2 separate regions of the Homo sapiens genome follow, and region 1 is linked to region 2. Evidence: fine-mapped QTL for protein levels in blood plasma. Region 2 holds a variant in brackets. A gene starts in the other region. All regions are shown on their forward strands.

Evidence for each region. PIP is the posterior inclusion probability: the model's chance that the variant is causal. Protein levels are from antibody-based Olink assays in UK Biobank. Linkage for the fine-mapping came from a reference panel and not from the study's own genotypes, which makes the PIPs less certain.
Region 1: it holds the start of THBS2, and the variant in region 2 is fine-mapped to the plasma level of the THBS2 protein (UK Biobank, PIP 0.98).

The regions. Positions count from the first base shown.
Region 1 is chr6:169,247,463-169,260,629 of GRCh38, forward strand. It overlaps THBS2 (thrombospondin 2), which reads right to left and starts at 6,384. Exons shown (of 22, transcript NM_003247.5): 1 at 6,262-6,384; 2 at 3,271-3,344; 3 at 955-1,511. The coding sequence starts at 3,322. RefSeq lists enhancers at 3,920-4,433, 4,946-5,458, 5,459-5,970.
Region 2 is chr5:40,932,964-40,940,963 of GRCh38, forward strand. C7 (complement C7) reads left to right here. Exons shown (of 18, transcript NM_000587.4): 4 at 1,362-1,503; 5 at 3,375-3,522; 6 at 4,589-4,727. Among named protein-coding and RNA genes, the nearest start is that of C7, 27 kb to the left of the region's middle. The variant T/C (reference allele first, on the strand shown) is at 3,476.

The DNA of each region.
Region 1 (13,167 bases), not on the chromosome of region 2:
GTGTATGTGTGTGTACATGTGTGGTTCTGTGTATGCATCTATATGATGTTCATGTGTTTATGTGTGGGGGATGTGTGAGTGTATGTATGGTGTTTGTGTAGGTATGTAAATGTGATGTGTGTGACTGTGTATGGTACTTTTGTGCACGTGTGTATGTGTGTGTTCACATGTGTGTGGTGTGCGTGCATTGCATGGCTGTGGGTGGTGTGTGCACACCTGTTTTGTGCACACATGTATAAGTGCTTACATATGGTTGTGTGCACATGTGCATGCATGAGTGTGTTCACATGTATGTGTGTGGTGTGTGTGCATGTGTGGTATGTGCACACGTCTGTGAATGTGAGTGCATGCATGGTGTTTATTTGTGTATGTGCATGGGTGCCCACGTAGGGTGTGTGCACGTGTGTGCATGTGTGTGTTCACATGTATGTCTGTGTGGTGTGCATGTGTGCACATGAGTGTATGAATGGTGTTTATGTGCGTCTGCATGTGCGTGCCCATGTATGGTGTTTGTGTGCACATGGGCATGCATATGTGAGGGTGTGTTCACATGCATGTGTATGTGGTGAGGTGTGTGTGTGCGTGTCTGTGTGTGTGTGTTGCGTGGTGTGTGTACATGTGTGATGTATATACATATGCGAGTGTGAGTGCATATGCAGTGTTTGTGTATATGTCTTTGGATGTGTGTTCATGTGTTTGTGAGCATGTGTGTTTGTGTGTGTGTGTGGTGTGTGTGCATGTGTGCACATGCCTGTGGCTGCGTGTGGTGGGCAGTGTGTGCATGTGCATGTGGTGTGTGCACGCATGTGTGTGAGCACATGCCGGGATGTGCAGTGTGCTTCTCTAAGGCCAGGCTCTGCCTGCTCAAGCATCGCATCACCAGACGCATTAGCAGATCAGTTCCCAGCTAAGCTCTTTCCTCCCTCACGGCGGCCACCTCCCTGCAGAGCGTACCCTGAAGTGACTCTCTCTGGCAGAGCCTTTGGCCACGTACATCCGGCTCTTTTCCGCCTGCAGGTGCTCGTAGAAGGGCTCGTCCAGAGCGAAGCTGTCTATGAGGTCGCAGCCCACGTGCAAGCTGTAGGTCTCGCCAGCCACCTGCACGGTGACGTTCTTCCACTGCGAGTCAGCCAGGCCGACGTCCTCCAGGGAGACCACATGCCGGGTGCCGTCAATCCAGTAGGTGAGATCCAGCGTGTCCGCGGGGCCGTTGGAGACGATCTCGAACTGCCTCTGGGAGAGACCGGGGCCCTCCAGAGCCAACAGCGTGCCCCTGGACTTGCCGTCCTGCTTGAGCTGGGCCGTGAGGAAGAAGCCCTCCTTCTGCCGCATGATCTTGGTGATCTTGCTGAGGTCATCTGCGTTCACCGGTGGGATGTAGTCAAAGCGCACGAAGCGGTAAGCCGGCACGCCGGGGTCGGGCCCGCGGAACTGCTTGGCGCCAATGGTCTTGCGGTTGATGTTGCTGATACTGAAAAGGTCGAAGGTCGTGTCTTTGTCCTGGTGACCAGCTGCAAAGGGAACCGCAGTGGAGAAGGGTGACGTAGGGGAAGAGGGCGAGGTTGGCCTGACCCAGGGTGACAAACCAGAACCTCGCGTGTAAGGAAATTAACGAGGCCTCCCAATATCCCGCAGCTTCTCTCCCTTTTTTATGGGAATCCTGGAGCCACCTCTGATGAAAAGCCACTATCCTCCGTGCCAGTGCCGCTACTCAGAGTGTGGGCCCAACGCAGCTGCGGGTCTGTGGGGTCAGTTTCTGCCCCTGGCTGGTCGAGGAGCGTGTGCCAGAAGGTAAATCGGTGGAGACAGGCAGCGCCCTGTCCGTTCAGCTGGCCCTTTGCATAGCCCGACCTTCTTGGTGAGGGAATCCCGGCCTCGCTTGACATCCTGGCACATGTCCCAGGTCACTCTGTCTGGCTCTTCCATCTCAGATCTGAGGCTGAAAAGCAGCCATCCTGTCTACCAGTTGATTGCTCAGGAAAAAACCAAATAAATGAATAAACTGGGAAAGACATGGATCTTTAGCCTTGCTATTGATAGAGTGTCAGAAAGCGGCTAAATCGTATGTTGCTTTCTTGTTGAGATCAACTGCCTAAAACCAGTTATGTCAGCAGGTTGTTATTTTGTAAAAATGTATTCTCCAACTCTTAATGCACCCTGTGGGTAAGGATCTGAAAGAGTGGTCAGTATCAAGTACAGAAACAAATGGTTTTAAGTCACCACCTAAGCTATTGGCAAGAAAAGTGATCAGATCTCACGAAAATCATAATAGTTTAAATAATTCAAAGCCAGGCGCGGTGGCTCACACCTGTAATCCCAGCACTTTGGGAGGCCGAGGTGGGTGGATCATGAGGTCAGGAGACGGAGACCATCATGGCTAACGTGGTGAAACCCCGTCTCTACTAAAAATACAAAAAATTAGCCAGGCATGGTTGTGGGCGCTTGTAGTCCCAGCTACTCGGGAGGCTGAGGCAGGAGAATGGCGTGAACCCGGGAGGCAGAGCTTGCAGTGAGCCCAGATCACGCCACTGCACTCCAGCCTGGGTGACAGAGCAGGACTCCGTCCCAGAAAAAAAAAAAAAAGTAATACACTGAACAGAAAGTTTAGCCAAAGCCTTCCTTTTCATCTAATATTTAGCAAATTAGAACAGGATAATACACAGGGTTGCTGACAGAAGTGGGCAATGGACCACTTTCCATAGAGTTACTTGGCAAGAATTAAAAGCTTTGATTCAGCAATTCTAATTTTGTAACCTATCCAAAGGATATAATCACAAATGCTACTTAAGATTTATCCACGTCAATATTTTTTGTGTCATCATTTATGCTAATGAAAATAAACCAATCTAAGTGGGAATTGATTGAAAAAGATCAGGCTTTATCTGTGATGAAATATTATGTGGTCATTAAAAATCATACTGTAGAAAAGTAAACACATGGGAAAATATTTAAAGGAGGAAGAAAGTGGAGCAAAAAGAATTCAACAAACACCAAATACTTGCAGTGTTGTGAACATCCTCTATAGAAAAAAGGATAAACTGTGCAACTCTAGGTGGAATTGCATTTTTCTCTAACACCTGAATTTTCCAAAGATAAATTATCTCATGTCATATTGGCTCAGAAGTAAGTTACTATTTGATTTATAAAGGAGCTAGAAGGTCCTCACGGGTAAGATTGTCCAACCACACACTTTATTTTGTCATCTCTCCCCTTGCAGCTAAGCCATATCTCACAAGCCAGAGAGAGACCACAGGCTCTGAGGACACTCACCTTGCGTGCTGGGCCACACCCACAGAGCCAGCAGGACCAGCCTCCAGACCATCCTGCCTCCTGCAGCTGAGCTCCTGGGAATACAGGAAACCCTTGTTAGTGATGAGTCCACAGCTGCAACCCTGCCTGTGAGCGAGACTGGCCCAGTGACTCACATGACCATTGAATAACAGTTTGCATATAAAACTCAGCACCAACTGGATTTGTGGCAAACTGAGAGCGAAGGAGGAAATTTACTCTTCAAGCAGGATTCTTCTAACTATAAGATTTGTTGAGCTAGCATTTGCCGGCAAGCACTGCACATCACGTTCTAAATATTCCTATTATTTCATCTTCATAATAGCCTGGGAGGTATGTGCTGCTCTAATTGTCCTCATTTTACAGATGAGCAAATGGAAGATGGGCAAGTTCAGCGCTTGCCTGGAGTAATTCTGTTCATACGACTCGTAGACAGGACTTAGATGTAGAAAGTTTGAATTTAGAAAAATATCCAGCCTGACAAAAATAATCTGTGAACGCATTTTGTGTAAATATCCAGCAAAAAACAGTTATGCATAACCTAATTAAATAGAATGAATATCAACTGTAAAAAAAAGTTACAAATAAACTTAATTTGGTGAATTATACTTACAAAACAACAGAACACTTGACTTAGCCATCATTTTGACCCTGCCTCTTTATTTTCCTGCAGGCCTGTTTTTCCATTCTTGGGGATTTTAAGTTGGCACAGCTCAGTGGAGGCTGGCCCCGAAGTCAGGAGATGTGGTCCAAAGCCCGGCTGGGCGATTAACCCTGTGGATCTCAGCTTCTCCTCTTCCGGGCGAGCATGAGCCTGAGGGTCCCAGGGCTCCCCAGGTCCCTTCCAGCAATTGGTCACACCCTGCTCTAGGTTGAAGGGAAGACTGAGACCCCAATTCTTCCCATATTTAGAATATCAAAGGCCGTTAACTTCTCATTGTTAATCCAAGGACTCTCCCTCTCCAGAAACAACATTTGGTAACCTGGAAATCCTCACCTTCCAGGAATAGAGAAACATTCCTCAGAAGAAGAGAAATGCTTGGCAGCACCTGCAGACCCCCCACCCATCTGCTGCTGGGACCCCCCCCCCAAACCATCTGCTCCCCCCAGTGCCGCCCCAGGGGTCCTTGGTGATTGTTTCATCTGTCCTGGCTCCGGAAGCAGCACGGCCTGCGGCCGGAGTCAGCACCAGGCTGAGCAATGCTGAGCACCAGCTGTGCAACCTAGGGAAACTTACTTAACTTCTCTGTCTCAGTTTCCTCATCCGTAGAATGAAACGTAGCGTCATGTAAAATGCCCACCTCATCGGGTTGTCATGAGAGATGAATTCGGCAAATGAAACTTCACCAGGGGCTGACTTAGCCCAGCGAGCCACAGGCATGGGTTACCGGAGCAGAATGTGCCTCTGGGTCTGGGGCGCTTTCTACTCTAACTGCCCGAGGCAGCTGCAGTAATAATGGTGGTGCTGATAGGGCCTTTCTATGGAGCTCTTAAGAGGGTTTAATGACAGGAGCGAACACTTGGCCATGAGCTTAGAACAGTACCTGCATGCAGTAAGCACCACAGAACGGTGTTAGAATACACAGCTCAGGTACAGCCTTGGCAGGCTCTTCCCACCTCCCCACCTCATCAGCCCACACTGCCGGGTACGTCGCAGTCCCCTAAGGACAGCTGTGTGGGGCTGGCCCTGCAGAGGCCAGCCAAGAACAGGATGGTAAATGCGAAAGTTCTGGATGCCCAGCTTCATAAGGACAGGTTAGAAAAACTAAATCAAACTCCTTTGACGAAACCAGATCCTACTGTCTCTGCCTTGAGGTAGATTCTTACAAGAGCAGGAGGCTAACAAAGCATCCCCTGCTGCGGATTGTCAAAGGACAGTGAGGCTCCATCCCACAGGAAGGATGAGCAGCCAGGCTACCTGGCCTCAGCCCATCCAGGGACACCGGGCATGCATGGATGGAGCCACGGATGAGCCAGTGCCGCTCACCCCTGCCCCAGCCTCTGCACGCCACACATCCACGTTTATGCTTGTGTTTTTCCAAAAGAAAGATTTCGGTGCCTGTCTGCAGCAGAATGTAGTTTGAATTTGCAAAGGTCTTTTAAAACTCTTTTCGTATGAACAATCAAAGTAAAAGATAGCTTTGCAGAGAGCTAATTGTTTACCGGCCGTCCACCACCAACAGCAGTCTGATTAAACACCAGACTCCTGGGTGCTCAGCTCCCAGTCCTGGGCAGCCAAACCCACCTTCCTTAAGTGGTAGCCAGGCAACCTGCCAGCTCGCTTTTCATATGCAAACTGCCCCAAGACTGTTAAAAGTCGCTGTGTGTCCCGGCAGTCACAGGATTTTCCATAGACTTACCACAAATACTCTCTAGTTATGTTCAAAACCACTTTTCAGCTGCTAATAATGTTAACAATCAGAGTCTCTCTTTAATCTACTAATAATGTTAACAATCAGAGTCTCTCTTTAATCTACTAATAATGTTAACGATCAGAGTCTCTCTCTAATCTACTAATAATGATGTTAACAATCAGAGTCTCTCTCTAATCTCCAGTTACTTTTCAGATATTCCGGGAGTTGTTTCTAATTCTCTCCTCAATAACAAACTCTCATGTGGAATCTTCTTCTTCGGAAACTGAAAACATAAAGCGTTTACCCGGGTTCCCAGGCAGGTATATACATTGAAATAGCAGCAGCCACAACCCTCAGAGAGGAAGGGGTGCCCGGCTGGTGAAAGCACAGCCACGGAGGAAAAGCTGAGGAGCGGCCACGTGCCTTGCTCTTCAAGCGGGCAGTAGAAACACCACGTGAAGAAACACTTGCCATTTAGTGTTAATAGATACACCACCCACCTTAAGTTAAGAATCGAAATTGCTCCTTTTTCTTCTCCGCTTCTTAGAGTTCGAGAACTCTAATTTCTTAAAATTAGAGCACCATTAAATAATTGATTGAGTTTAAGAAATAATCGTACCTGGTTTGCCAAAAAGATGCAGTGATGACTGGTTTCAGTGTTCCGGACCGAGTCAGAAAGGCGCAGGCTCTGCTGGAGCGAGAGACCGGCCCTGCAGTGCAGGATGCTCCGGTGGACGTGGCCGAGCGGCTCCCGGGCAGCGCGGCTTTATATGCCGCTTCTCCTGTGCAGGGCTGTCAATCAGACACACGAGGAAGCACGTTTAATTCATTCCTTCGAAGGAATGACATCATCCCCCTTCTGATCTCACCATTTGCTCCGAGTACCTGCTGCAGGGGTCCAAGTCCAGCCCCTCTGTACTGGATGCCGTCTCCTCCTCCTGCACCCCGGCCCCTGCCAGACAGGCCTGGGAGGAGCCAGACGGAGAGAGGGAAGGCAGGGACTCACTTTTCCTGTCTTCTCTCAGGAAATAAGATGCTATAAATAACACTAGCAAGATTGGCTAGAACTCCTCATTTTGCTTAAGAGAAAAAAATGCAAGTTCTATGCCTTAAATATGTTTCGAATTACTCAATGTGATATTGGTCTTTCTAAACCAAATGAGTGACTCTCAATAACACATGAAATACATCGGTGAGTATCAATAATCAGTCTGTATATTAATAAAGTTATTATGGTCAATAATCAAGTGTATTATGTGACAAAAATGAAATTTAATATAAAAGGAAGTTGCCAACATTTATCTCAGGCAGTTAGAGGACTGAAAAGCTGTACTGCAGCTTTGGGAAAATTCATTTTTACCCAAATTCTGCTTCATTTGCTCAGTGAGGATCCCCTAGAAGGACGTCTCCCAGTGGACGTGCAATACCCGTAGAAGGGTGTGTCCCAGTGGACGTACAGTACCCGGCCAAGTCCCCTTGGTGCACACTTGCACGTGGCCCCATCACAGGAACAACCTGACGTGCAGGCACAGAGCAAGGACTCGAGAGAACGAGAAGCAGTGGCAGCAGCTAACCCCCGCCCCTCCCACACCTCAGGCATCACCCGCAATCAGGGTGCACTCTGCATGGGGGTGGGGGGCACCGCTTCTCAGAGGTCAGGGTGGACGATGGATGCGGAGGGGCTGCTTCTCCCAGGTCAGGGTATACAGTGGAAAGGGGAAGCTGCTGCTCTAAGGTGGGGGTTGATGGTACATGGGGGAGGGGCTGCTTCTCCCAAGTTGGGCTGGACAGTGGATGGGGGAGGTGCCACTTCTCCCAGGCCAGTGTGAAAGGTGGATGGTGGAGAGGCTGTTTCTCCCAGGTCAGTGTGCAAGGTGGCTGGGGATGTGTTGTTTCTCCCAGGTCAGGGTTAATGGCAGACAGGGGAGCTGCTGCTTCTCCTGGGTTGGGGTGGACCTTGGATGGGGGAGGTGCTACTTCCCCAGGTGGGGTGGATGGTGACTGGGGAGCTGCTGCTTTGCCCGGAGCCACCTGCACCTGCTTCATGTCGGCACCTGCCTGTCAGGTTCCTTCACGTTTGTGTGGAGTTGTCAGCCTGGCCATGGATCCGTCAAGTCCTAGTTAGAGAACATTAAAGCGAATTTCTGTGGACACAACCCTTACTGTGTCTGTGGCAGGGGAGTGTCTCTTAAGCCTCCTGGCATTCCCCCACAGGGGTCCAGCGCTGCAGAGGTCGGCAGGCACCATGAAGAGCAAGCCTCACTTTCTGGCCTCTGTCTTCAGGGAGGATATGCGAGCGGGTGTGGGAGAGGGAAGGAGCTTTCATTTGTGAAAACCTCTGTTTTTCCTAATGGCACCTGTTTATTTATCACTTGGCAAACATCAGTTTCCGACACATGCACAGACAAAAGCCTCCAAGAGTGTATGTGTCATGTTTAAGGTACGTTATTTTGCTTTTTAAGCTATTAGGGACAAAGTCATCATTTGAATTAAAAAGTAGTTTAAATAGATTGATGTTATCTCAAATTCAAAAAAAGTATAAACCAGTTCCCCTTAAAGAATTTTCAGTGGATAATTATCCATTCATCAGTTTGAGTTTTTCTGCCTCCAGGTTAGTTTTTCCTGGGGCCAGAACATGGAGGGCGGCATCCCCTACTCTGCGTGCCACGGCCTCTCCTGTTCCTCAGTCCACAGAATGCGTGTTTCCTGATTAAAGCTGAAGACAGGCAGCTCAGCTGCTCAGCACTTCAGGAGCATGCGGTGAAGACCGTGACACTCACTGGGGAGCAGGAAGGTATGTATTCATGACTCCACGTGCCGATGGGCAGGTACAGAGAAGATGGGCCTCCTTCTGTAAAATCTGGCAGCCCAGAATCAGGGAAGTCTGTTTAGAGGAGACAGAAGGTAAGCCGATTGGAACATGGCCCGTGAATGGGGTGTCCCCAGTTGAGAAAGTATTTCAGGCAGAGAGAGTGGGTAGGTGTTCATGGTGCAAAGAACAGCAGGCTCCTGGTGCGGCACCCAGGCCAGGTGCATGGAATGGGCTTCATAGACGATGGAAGTCACAGAGAGTTTCCTGGCAGGGTGAGGCGGGACTTCATGGGCCCACTGTGCAGGGGACCAGAGGGGGAGTAGAGGGGACAGCCCCTGGTCAGCATCTTCCCTGGGCCCCCTGGGGGTGAGGAGGAAGGGAGATGTGAGGATGAAACAAAAAGCAGTCAGAGGCTTCGTCAGGAAAGCCAGCGATGCTGAGGGAAGCATCATCACATGTGTGCGCGGGAGGATGAGGGACAGACACGCAGCAGGTGGAATCATGTCCCCCCAAGTTCACATCCACCCCAAACCTGTGAATGAGCTTACTGGAAATACCACAGTGCTTGTGGATGAAATCAAGTGTAGATGTCGTCGAACTGATGTAGGACAGGCTCCAAATCTAATGGCTAGTGTTCTAATAAGAATAAAGAATATGAAGACGGAGACACAGGGCGAGCTCCGCTTGATGAAAGAGGCAGAGACCACAGTGATGCAACCACTAGCCAAGGTCACCAAGGGCTGCCAGAAACACCAGAACTGTGGGAGACAGGGAAGGGGCCTCTGCCAGAACATTCCGAGGACGTGCAGCCCTGCCACACACTGCATTTAAAACTGCTGGACTCCAGAACCATGGGACAATACATGTGTGTTGTTTGTGATACTTCATCATAGCGGGCCCAGGGAACTAATACAGGCACACCTTGGAGATACCGCAGGCTCGGTTCCACACCTCTGCAATAAAGTGAGTTGCATGGATTTGTGCTTTCCCAGTGCATATAAAAGGGATGTTTACACTCCACTATTGTCTATTAAGGGTGCAATAGCATTATGTCTAAGAGAACAATGTGCATATCTTAATTCTAAAACATTTCATTGCTCAAAACTACTAACCGTCATTTGAGCCTTCAATGAGCCGTCATCTTTTCGCTGGTGGAGAGTCTTGCCTCAATGCTGGTGGCTGCTGACTGATCAGGGTGGTGGTTGCTGATGGTTGGAGTGTCTGTAGCAGGTTCTTAGAGTAAGACCACAATGAAGTTTGCTGCATCTATGGACTCTTTTATAAAACGTTTCTCTGTAGCATATCATGGTTTTTGATAGCAGTTTACTCACACAATAACTTGTTTCAAAATTGATGTCCATTCTCTGAAATGCTGCTGCTGTTTTTTCAACTTAGCTTATGTAATAGTCTAAATTATTTGTTGTCATCTCAACATCTTCCCCAGGAGTGAAGCATTTCACAACATCTTCACTGGGAGTACATTTCATCTGAAAAAATCATTTTCTTTGCTCATCCTTAAGAAATAACTCCTGATCCATTCAAGTTTTATCATGAGAGTACAGCAATTCAGTCCCATCCTCAGGCCCAGCTTCTAACTCTACCTCTCTCACTCATTCCATCACATCTTCAGTGACTTCCTCTACTGAAGCCTTGAACCCTCAGGGTCATCCCTCATGGTGGGGTTTGGAAGAATCAGCTTCTTCCAAACTCCTGTCAGTGTTTATATTTTTCCTTTTCCCGTGAATCATGAATGTACTAGTGGCATCTAGAATGGTGAATCCTTTCCAGAAGGTTTTCAGTTGACTTTGCTCATATTCATCAGAGGAATCACTCTCTATGGCAGCTATAGCCTCATGAAATGTATTTCTTAAATAGTAAGACTTGAAAGTCCAAATGACTCCTTGACTGATGGGCTGCAGAGTGGATGTTGTGTTAGTTAGTAAGCATGAAAGCAACATCATCTCATTGAGCATTTCCATCAGAGTTCTTGGGTGACTAGGTGCATTGACCAAGAGCAGTAATATTCTAAAATAGATCATTTTTTGAGCAGTAGGTCTCAACAGTGGGTTTGAAATATTTAGTCAGCCATGCTGAGAACAGATTTGCTGTCATCTAGACTTTGTTGTTCCATTTAAAGAGCATAAGAATAATACCTTTAGCATAGCTCTTAAGGGCTAAAGATTTTCAGATTGGTAAATAAGCACAGGCTTCAACTTGAAGTCACCGGCTGCATTAGCCTCTAATAAAAGAGACAGCCTGGCCTTTGAATTTTTGAAGCCAGGCATTGACTTCTCCTCTGTAGCTATGACAGTTGGAGATGGCCTCTTCTAATGCAAGGCTGTTTCGTCTTCATTGAAAATCAGCTGTTGAGTGTAGCCACCTCCACAATGATTTTAGTTAGATCTTTTGGGTCACTTGCTGCAGCTTCTCCATCAGCACTTGCTGCTTCACCTTGCATTTTTGTCTTACAGAGATGGCTTCTTCCCTAAACTTCATGAACCAATCTCTGCCAGCTTCGAACTTTTCTTCTGCAGCTTCCTCATCTCTCTCAGACTTCACAGAATTGAAGAGAGTTAGAGCTTTGCTTAGATTAGGCTTTGGCCTCAGAGAATGTTGTGGCTGGTTTGATTTTCTCTCCAGGACACTCAAACTTTCTCCCTATCAATCAGCAATAAGGCTGTTCTGCTTTCTTATCAATGGAGTGTATTATATCCGATGGGCATATTTCAGTGGAAGCCGGATGGATGAGTCTAAAGCCTGGGCGATCCTTCATTAGAGATGATGTTTAAATCCATGGGCAGGAGACAGGTGAGGCCACTGGAAAGAGGAAGGCAGGAAGGGGCAGACAGAGCCTTAGGGCATGGACCTCTGGCTGGAGCTGAACCACAGGTGTGGTGAGGGAGAGGGCTCCCTTCTGCCCCAGAAACTCCTGTCCCTGAACCGTGGTTTCCGTTGTCAGGTTGTGCATGGACTGCGTCAGAAACAGCAAATCCTGGTGTGGCTCTGTTCCTTTCACAGTGACGCAGGGGGGTTGAAAAGCAACTGGACACATTGAATGTGCAGAGGCCTGAGCTGAAGAAAAGAGCACGGGCTGGGGACCAGGGCCAGGCACACTCGTCACAGCCCTTCTGACTCAGAGGTTTTTATATCACCTCCCCTTGCTCTTCTCTCTGGCCTGAACCTGCTTTCTAAGCACCCCAAGGTGATCTGGGGATACTTGCCGGATGGGCGCTGCTTGGAGCTTGTTAAAATTATCAAAAGAACAAGCAGACAGACTTCCCCTGCACGGCTTCTCCACCTGGAATGCGCACACAGGACACTGGGCCTGGCCCAAAGGCAGATTCCGACTCAGTAGGTGTGGGGTTGGGGAATCTGATGGTGGGTTTTGAACAAGCTCCCCTGCTCCAAGATCACGCTTGGAGTAGCAAGACTTTAGTGACTGTAACTCAGCAGGGCACTGTTATCCTGGCCACCACCCTGGGGTGGGTTTGTTGTCACACTCATTCTACAGAGGAGAAATCAAAGGTCCTGGCTCTGGCCTCGCCTTGTCGACCCTTGGGTCCTCGGGACCAGGATCCTTCCCTGGAGAGGGGCCCAGAATTCCCAGGGCCAGGGCTGAGGCCAGTCCCTCTGGCTTTGATTCCACCCAAGCTGCACTGACTTGGAGCATACACAGGAAAAGGAATGGGGGCTACTTTGTCGATTTGTTTGAGGCTCCATTTGCTCATCCATTTATTCAAAAATTACTCATTGAGCATCTGTGGCACCTAACACATCCCAGACACTGCAAACAGCACAGTACACATGAGGCATAAACAGGTCCCTGCCCTTTGGGGCTCCTATGTAGCCTGGCCTGCTGCCTAATTGAATTCCCACTAAGCCTCATGGAACTGTGGTCATCAGCTGATGCTCTGTGTCTTGTGTGACTGGAGCCCCCTACCTCACAGGTAACCGTAAGGGGTGAGCAGGAATCTTCTGCTCATTTCTGTTGTGCATAAATTCTAATTATGTCCCGGACACCACAGATTCCCTTTCCCAGGTGTTGTGCAAACATTCCAAGGCACGTGGCAGGGCCTTCTCGGACATTTGTGTGGCCCCCTTCTTCACCTGCCCAGCCATCACTCCCCTTGTAAACCCAGCGTGGACCTGAGCCCATGCGCTCCACATCAGGAGGCCCAGGGGCTGCGTTCATGGCCCAGGCTTCCTGTGGGCATAGCCCAAGCCCCCTCCCCCTATCCCCTGCCCTGGAGTGGAGGTCATCCCTGGAGTGGAGGGAGGCCATGCCTGGAGTGGAGGTCATGCCTGGAGTGGTGGGAGGTCATGCCTGGAGTGGAGAGAGGTCATCCCTGGAGTGGAGGTCATCCCTGGAGCAGAGGACATCCCTGGAGTGGAGGGAGATCATCCCTGGAGTGGAAGTCATCCCTGGAGTGGAGGTCATCCCTGGAGCAGAGGACATCCCTGGAGTGGAGGGAGATCATCCCTGGAGTGGAAGTCATCCCTGGAGTGGAGTGGAGGTCATCCCTAGAGTGGAGGGAGGTCATCCCTGGAGTGGAGGTCATGCCTGGAGTGGAGTGGAGGTCATCCCTAGAGTGGAGGGAGGTCATCCCTAGAGTGGAGGGAGGTCATCCCTGGAGTGGAGGTCATGCCTGGAGTGGAGGAAGGTCACCCCTGGAGTGGAGGAAGGTCATCCCTGGAGTGGAGGTCATGCCTGGA
Region 2 (8,000 bases):
TATGGAGAAGAAAAACACTTTCTTATGCAAACAACACCATCTGGGCTCTGGAACTTCACAAAAGGACACTGTTAAGTCACACATGAGCGGTATCTTCATCACTTACAAAGGGACTAAAAATGGTATCAAGAAACCTTACCGAGTTCCATTCCCCACTCATATTCCTCTGTGGCTCCTTTGCTTAAACATGATGAAAGACACCAGAGCCATGCTCAGGCTGGTGCGTACCTGCTCAGAGTTCAAATTATGGCCACTGTGACCCCTCATGCCAAGGAATTCCCACTTCTAACCCAATTTAGGATGGATGAATAAGTTCGACATTGATATGTACAGCAACTCTTCCCTGTTGATCTTCACTCAAGGTTTAAATCCTCAGGACGCTCAGTTTTGGTTCCGTTTTGTTTGTTAATGGAGAAGAGGTGAGTAGAGGAAGAGGCCTGGAAGATGCTCACTGATTGCCAGGGGTAGATCTTTCTTTTTGTTTGAATGTTAGATACATGTCTTCATAGTGAATGAGGATTAAATAAACTTTAGTATGAATTAGTTGTAAGTTTCTCATTTAGTTTGATAATTTCTTCAGTTTTCCTATATTCTTTTCCCTCAAGAGGTTTGTATTTTACGTATTCCTTTGTAGATGTAGCTTCACCTTTGGATTACTTAGGCTTCTGTTTTGTAAATTTGACTTCCATATTCATGTATTTCTCTCTGAATTGTTTTTGCTTGCCTTTCTTCCTGAAGAAGGCTTACAGTTTAGCTGAAAGGAATCACCATCACTCTTCTGAAGGTTTCCTTAACTCTGCTTCATCTTAACCCCTTTCCCAGTACCTTATCCTCTCTCCAGAAAAAGTCATTTCACTTTCTCTAATGAGCTCTTGGAACACAGATTTGGTAAATATATTAATCATTCTATGCTCTAATGTATTTGCTTATGTGTCTACCCTCTAAGCTTTACTCAGGTTACTTTCTTTTTTCTTTTCTTTTTTTTTTTTTGAGACGGTGTCTCACTTTATTGCCCAGGCTGGAGTGCAGTGGCATGATCTCAGCTCACTGCAATCAGGTTACTTTCTTAAAGATTCACTAACATCATTTTTTTTTTTTTGCATTTAATCCTGAAAGTCAATATATGCCTGGGAGCTCTCTATAAATAATAGCCAACATGTTGCTTAACTCAAGGACAAATAGGTCTGTGAATTCATTGATTTTGAGGTTTTATTTCTGTAGAACACCAGAACAATTTTCCAGACGTTGTTTTTCTAATTGTATTACTTTTTCTCAGATTTTATTACTCAGATAAAGGAAACTAGAGATTTCTTTGAAAACAAACAAATAAACAAACAAACCACTGCCTGCTTTGTGTTTAGACTCGCAGGCGGTCAGTTGCTGTGTATGGGCAGTATGGAGGCCAGCCTTGTGTTGGAAATGCTTTTGAAACACAGTCCTGTGAACCTACAAGAGGATGTCCAACAGAGGAGGGATGTGGAGAGCGTTTCAGGTGCTTTTCAGGTAACTTGTTTTCCATAGGCTCAGCATGCAGATTGTAAATTCAAACGTTATTTGGTGAACTTGCTCGTTATATATTTGTTAAATTTTACTGAATTTATATTGGCCTAAAGTTAATTCCCCCAAATATCATCAGGATTTTTGTTGGTATGTTAATCATCCACTCAGCTATCATTTTTTCAAATGCAAGGGGATGCATCTGGTAATAAACATAGGAATGCTCTTTGTCTCTTTGAATGGAACTCTAGTTACTGACAGACCCAAAAAGTTCTTGACAGTGTATTTTGAGTAAAGATGCAGAGTGAGTCTTGTACATATATTGAGATTAGACGAAAACAATGTTACTGCCTAAATTATTATATCTACAAGAAAAGCAACCCTAATGAACTGATTAAGGAGCAATACAGTTCTCTCCTATGCATGGGGTGATTGAAACACCAGTTTTGGCATAGAATATTATTTGACCAATACTCTATGTTGCATTTATGCAGTCAGATTAATGTAACAACATTTAGTAAACATTTATGATTCTTGTTTCAAATAGTGGTGAGAGTTGTATATACAAGTGAAACACATGCCTCTTCCCTCACAAATATTAAAGTTTTATGGGCAGAATAGTACATAAATAATCCCTGTGTTAGAAGTGCTCCTCAGTGATACCTGTTGAACGCTTATTTTACTTTCAAAATCCAAATTAGATAACCACTCCTTCAGGAAGCCTGCCCTAAATCCCCAACTGATAGAAGTAATTAAGCAATCACTTCCATATTTTCCTTATGCATATTGTACCATCTGTCATTTGGATGATTCGTTGGCCTGAATGTCTCTCTTGGTGAACTGTGAACTCCTTGAAGACATGAATTATATTTCTTACATGTTGACTTCTGGAGTCCCTGGTACATAATAAGTTCTCAACAAATGTTTGCTGCATTGGATTGAGTGGCAGTATAGCAGGGTACATGTCCTATAAGGACAGCTGTGCACCAAACATCCTATGAGGACATAGAGGAAGAACATGCATCAGAGCCTGTGAGGCAGCGATGGTTTTCAAGAGGAGATAATGTTTAATTTGATTCTTGAAGGACAAGTAAGAGATAGGTAGAGAAAACCCATCTAGGCAGAGAGAACTAACCAAGCGCAAGATCATTGGAGATGACAGAAAGCTTGGCCTTTTATTCATGCAGGTAGTCTGGTATGACTAGGGTATAAGAAGCTAGTAGGAGAATGGCTGGGGATGATGCTGGGGAGATAGGCAGGAACTAGATCATCTGGTACTCTCCAGTGCTTCCTTGGTACTCTAGATTTATGGCTATCATAACAATTATGATCTATGTCTTTGTAGTATTTCCTATTAGATTGTAAAGTATATGAAAAGCTGGCAAAGGCCATTTTTATTCATATTCGTATCCTAGCCCCTATTGTGCTACGGAAATGTTGAATTTTAACCTTTTGATAAAATTGTCCGGCTCTTAAAGCTTACAAATTTAAATTACCAAAAAAAGCTCAACTTTGTCATCTTAGAATGACAGAAAAAAAGTGAAAGTTGAAGGGCAGGAAGTCAGTCTATTTTCTCAGTAGTCGGAATTATATAATTTAGACAAGCTGCTTGATGATTATGGGTGAGATCCTGAAATTCTGAATTCAGATCCTATTTTCAATTTTGTGTCTGATTGAGTTAAGAACCATTTCCATGTGCCATAAAATGGAGACAAAATACTCACTAGTCCTTTCCGAGACACTCTGAGGATTTATCTCCCATTTACATTGGCGTATCAGTGCAGTGTTACAGGTAGCAGGAAAACCCTTTTTGGTCCTGGGTAGTGTTTCTCCTCTTCCCTCTTTTACATTTGCACGTGGATTTCTCTGGTGTTCAGGTCAGTGCATCAGCAAATCATTGGTTTGCAATGGGGATTCTGACTGTGATGAAGACAGTGCTGATGAAGACAGATGTGAGGACTCAGAAAGGAGACCTTCC[T/C]GTGATATCGATAAACCTCCTCCTAACATAGAACTTACTGGAAATGGGTAAGGTGCTGGGCAGCCTCCTGAGTACATCAGTGAATTGTAGTTTTAAATTTTGTTTTATTTTATAGTTTGGTAAGTCTACGAACAAGTCTTCTAATAGGCAAGATTATTCATTGGCTCAGAGCTCTTTGCCACATCCTGAGACAGTATTTTTGTTCACACATGTATACCTGTAGATACATGTGGTAGATGCAGAGTGACCCCTTGTCCTGGGATGGTCCTAGTTTTAGCGCTGAAATTCTAATTCCAAGAAACCCCTCAGGCCCAGGGAAACCTGGACAGTTGGTCACTTCATGGGGGTTGGAAGGGAGGGAGAGAGAGAGAAAAAATACTAATTCAATAATGTGGGGCTATTCAAGAGAATGAAGAGACAATAGAATGAGAACAGGATGAGAAGAGAGACAGAAGCAAGTGTGTTGTAATATCCAGGCTGAACAGCAATTGTCTAAACTAGCCAAGAACCTGTTTCCAAGTGAAGGTTGGAAAATACTGTGTTTACGTTATCAAAGAGAATTCTGAAGAATTTTTAAGGGTCATATGACTTGTTAAGGTTTCAAGACCTAAAAATAACCTATTTTAGAGTGAAAGAAGTAATTTTTCTGAAATATTTTAAAATTTATTAACAGAGAAATAGGGTAAAATTATTTGAAAGAGTACACCATTCAGTATGCTAAGAGGCAATTAGTTAAAATTTATTATAGAGAGCTCTCTCTCCTCAAGAGTAACCTTAATTGTATTGGTTTTATCTACAGATTCAATTCAAAACCAGCTGTTGCCATAGATACGAAAGAGCCATGTGTTTCCCAAATATGTTCTTAGATGGAAAGAATGTTGGATTTTCTGAGCCATTAGTTTTAGTGATTATACCAAGCAGGGGAAGCTGGATAATGTATGGTGTGTATTAGGATGCTGTGCTCTTCATTTGAACTCTCTCAAAGAAGTGTTTAAGTGTAATGCATTTTAAGAATTTGTAGAGTTCTGTAATAAACTTTTTTCCCCACCAAGTGCTATTTCTGGTTTTTAACGGCTTTTTATTTCCTCCTTCTCCTCCTCCTCCTTTTAACAGTTACAATGAACTCACTGGCCAGTTTAGGAACAGAGTCATCAATACCAAAAGTTTTGGTGGTCAATGTAGAAAGGTGTTTAGTGGGGATGGAAAAGATTTCTACAGGCTGAGTGGAAATGTCCTGTCCTATACATTCCAGGTACTTACGACGTTATTGATTTCCAATCTGGAATTGTCAGAGAGCATTATTTATATGATATTGACTTTTACGTATTTGTTGAGAATTTACTTATGGCCTAATGTGTGGTCAATTTTTATAAATGTTTTATGTTGACTTAAAAAGTATACACAGTGTTTTTGCTTTGGGGTACAGGGCAATGATACTTTTAACATGTGTCATTCAAGCTGACATATCCTTATACCTCATTTGTAACTTCATGTTCTATATAGGCCCAAGACCTTATTGTCTGTGCTGGTGTAGGCATTAAACTGAAGACCCTGTCCATGACTGGTAATGATAGTCTCCTGACACTGCTACAGTGTCAGCTCACTTAAAATGCTTTTATTTTAAAATTGTGAACTATTTCATATATACAAAAGGGTGTGGATAACATATATGTGTAATTTGAAGAAAACTGCCCTTATATGCCCACCATCTGCCTTAAGAAATAGAATATTGCCAGTGACTTAAAGGCTCCTCTATGCCCCTCTCTGATCACATCCCTCTCACTCCTCAGGCAACTACTATTTTATATTTTGTATTAATTATCCTTGTTTTTTCTATAAATGCTTATTCTTTATATGTTTTTGTCCCTAAATATAAATTTGTGATTTAGTTTTGCCTATTTTTTCCATTTGTATAAATAGAATCATATCTATTCTTCTGTTACTTTTTTCACTAAAAGTTATGGATTTGAGATTTACTCATGCTGTTGCAGGTGGCATTTTTATTGCTGTTTCCAATTTTTTCTTATGAAAATGCCTTGAACATTCTTGTGCCTGAGTCCCATACAAATGAACTAGAGCTTCTCCAGGGCATACACCTGGAACTCAAATTGCTACCTCATAGGATATGTATGTACTAAATTTTACTAGGTAAAGTATCCAAAATGGCTGGATCATTTCATACCCCAGCAGTGGGGATGAGTGGCCTCCACTTCACATGCTTGCCAACGTTGGTATTGCTTAACTTTTTAATTTTGCTTATGATCTCAGATCTCCTCTGTCTCCAGGCTTCTGTTTCTCAAAAGCTATTTCTGTCATACACACCTAAACTCACCCGTGAGTAGGTTTTGATCAACACAATACGTACTCATGCAAAACAGTTATGGCTTTAGGAAACTTTACGGAAGATTTAGAAGGAAGATAGAGGAGAGATTTTCTGTTGCAGTAATGCAAACATGTTGAAGCAATAGCGGTTGGCATCTTCTATCTTAAAACACTTCCACAGCCTCAACACAACGAAATTTCTGGTCTCATCGGGTGTTAGCTTCTTTCTTGCTCTCGTCTTTCAAGATCCCCTCTCTCACTCCTTTTCCTCCCTTTGTCCCCAAACTCCAAAAATGTCTAATTCAGCTTTTAATATTGATTACTTCTAAATTTGTAAACCCAAACTACTGAAATGTTCAGACAAAAGGGCCTTTTGCTTACCCAAATTAACCTTCTCCAGAAAGCAGCTTTGATTATAAATAGCAAACATACCGTCTTCCAATTTACCATAGAATAAGTTAGTTGCATTTAAGAGTTGTTGAGTAATATAAATGAGAAGTAAAACAGATCTGAAAAATAATTGTAGCTACCAGTTTTTGAATACCTACTGTGGCATCTACACTATTTTAGGTGATTAGCATAGGTTTAATTCTCACAGCAGCTTTGGAAAGTAAGCAATATTTTACTATTTTATATATGTAGAAACTGAGGCTTAAGAGGACTTCAGCTGACATACTCAAAGTCACCAAATTAAAAAGTAGTAGAGCTTAGATCTGGTCTGTCAGATTTCACAGCCTTTTATTTTTCCATTACATTTTACTCTCCCCATGTGTTTCACTTATTTTTCAATTCTAAATTCAACGTGGTGAATAACATGTATTACAATTTAACCTTTGGCCAGAAAGGAGAATGTAAGACAGGCATATACAGATAATTTTTTTTCTCCCTCTATACCTTAGAGAATATGTTCCTAATTCTTTCATAATTATAATGTGGAGACTTGCATGTATATTTTTGAAAGGGTCAAATTTAGAAAGTTACAGAGCAGAGAAAATAATAAGAAAGAGCGTTTCTGACTTCGTTGGAAGGTAGACAGGCAGGAAGTCTGCATTTCTGAAGAAGAGGGATAATTTATTAACAACGTGATCCTGACATTCATTTTCCTCAGCAGGGCTTGGTCTTTAGATTGACAACTGAAATGCCTTCCCCATCACTGAATGTGAAGGTGTTTGTCAGAGTAGAGGGAAATTATAGCCTGCTATAGAATGAGGAACAGAGATGTTTTGAGGAGCAGTCTGAGGGAAGTGAAGTGGAAGCCACAGGCAGTGAGTCAGCCATGCAAATGCTAAACTCAGGTGTGGACGCGGAGGTGGTGAATGTCCTCCATGGTTCAAATAAATTCATCTCGGGCCCACTGGGTATTCAGCTCTCTTTGAGGTGGAAAGTGACTTTTGGCTTATTGGAACATAAATATTAGTAGTAAATATAAAACAGAATCGGCCAGTCTCTCTTATAATCCCTGTTTCGGTTTTTAGCATCGCGGTTTATCCAGGGCAAACCCAATTTCTTGTCGAGTAAGCTACTTAACTTTGATGCTGTGCACATTCTCTGTCTACTTATACATTTTATACAACAAGGAAGGCATTTATGGCTTGGGAAGGTGCCCCTCTGCCTTGTTCAGCCTGAGAGATAGCAGAGGACTATTGTGTTTATTCTCAGTGTGTGATGAATTGCAGAAGGGAATGAATTATGATCAAGGTGGAAAAACTTCATGGCTTCTTCTGTGTTTGGTCTTGAATATACTTCATTATATATTTTGAAGAGAAATCCTAAATGCATATCAAATTAAAAACAAAAACAAATTCTAAAGGCAATTTTAATGAATGCTGCATTATCTAAGCCTTTGCTTCCTCTGTTGGTATGAGGACTAGATACCTGAGATTTCTAAATCTACCTTGTTAAAGGAATAATTTAAATGATGGTTAAAAATATCTCACATATAAGAACGCTTTGTATACTAAGCACTGTTCCAAGAGCTTTACATGGACCTATTTTCCTTATAATAACCTAAGGAGGTAGGTACTGGCATCTCATTTTACAAATGATAAAACAGAGGCAAAAAAGCTAAATAGCTTATCCACAGCATAGAAGATGACAAAGGTGGGATTTGAACTTTAGAAGTCTGGCTCCAAACCCCCTCAGAGCAGACACTATACTTACAAGCATTTTATATAGTATATATATGTATGTATATGCAGTGAAT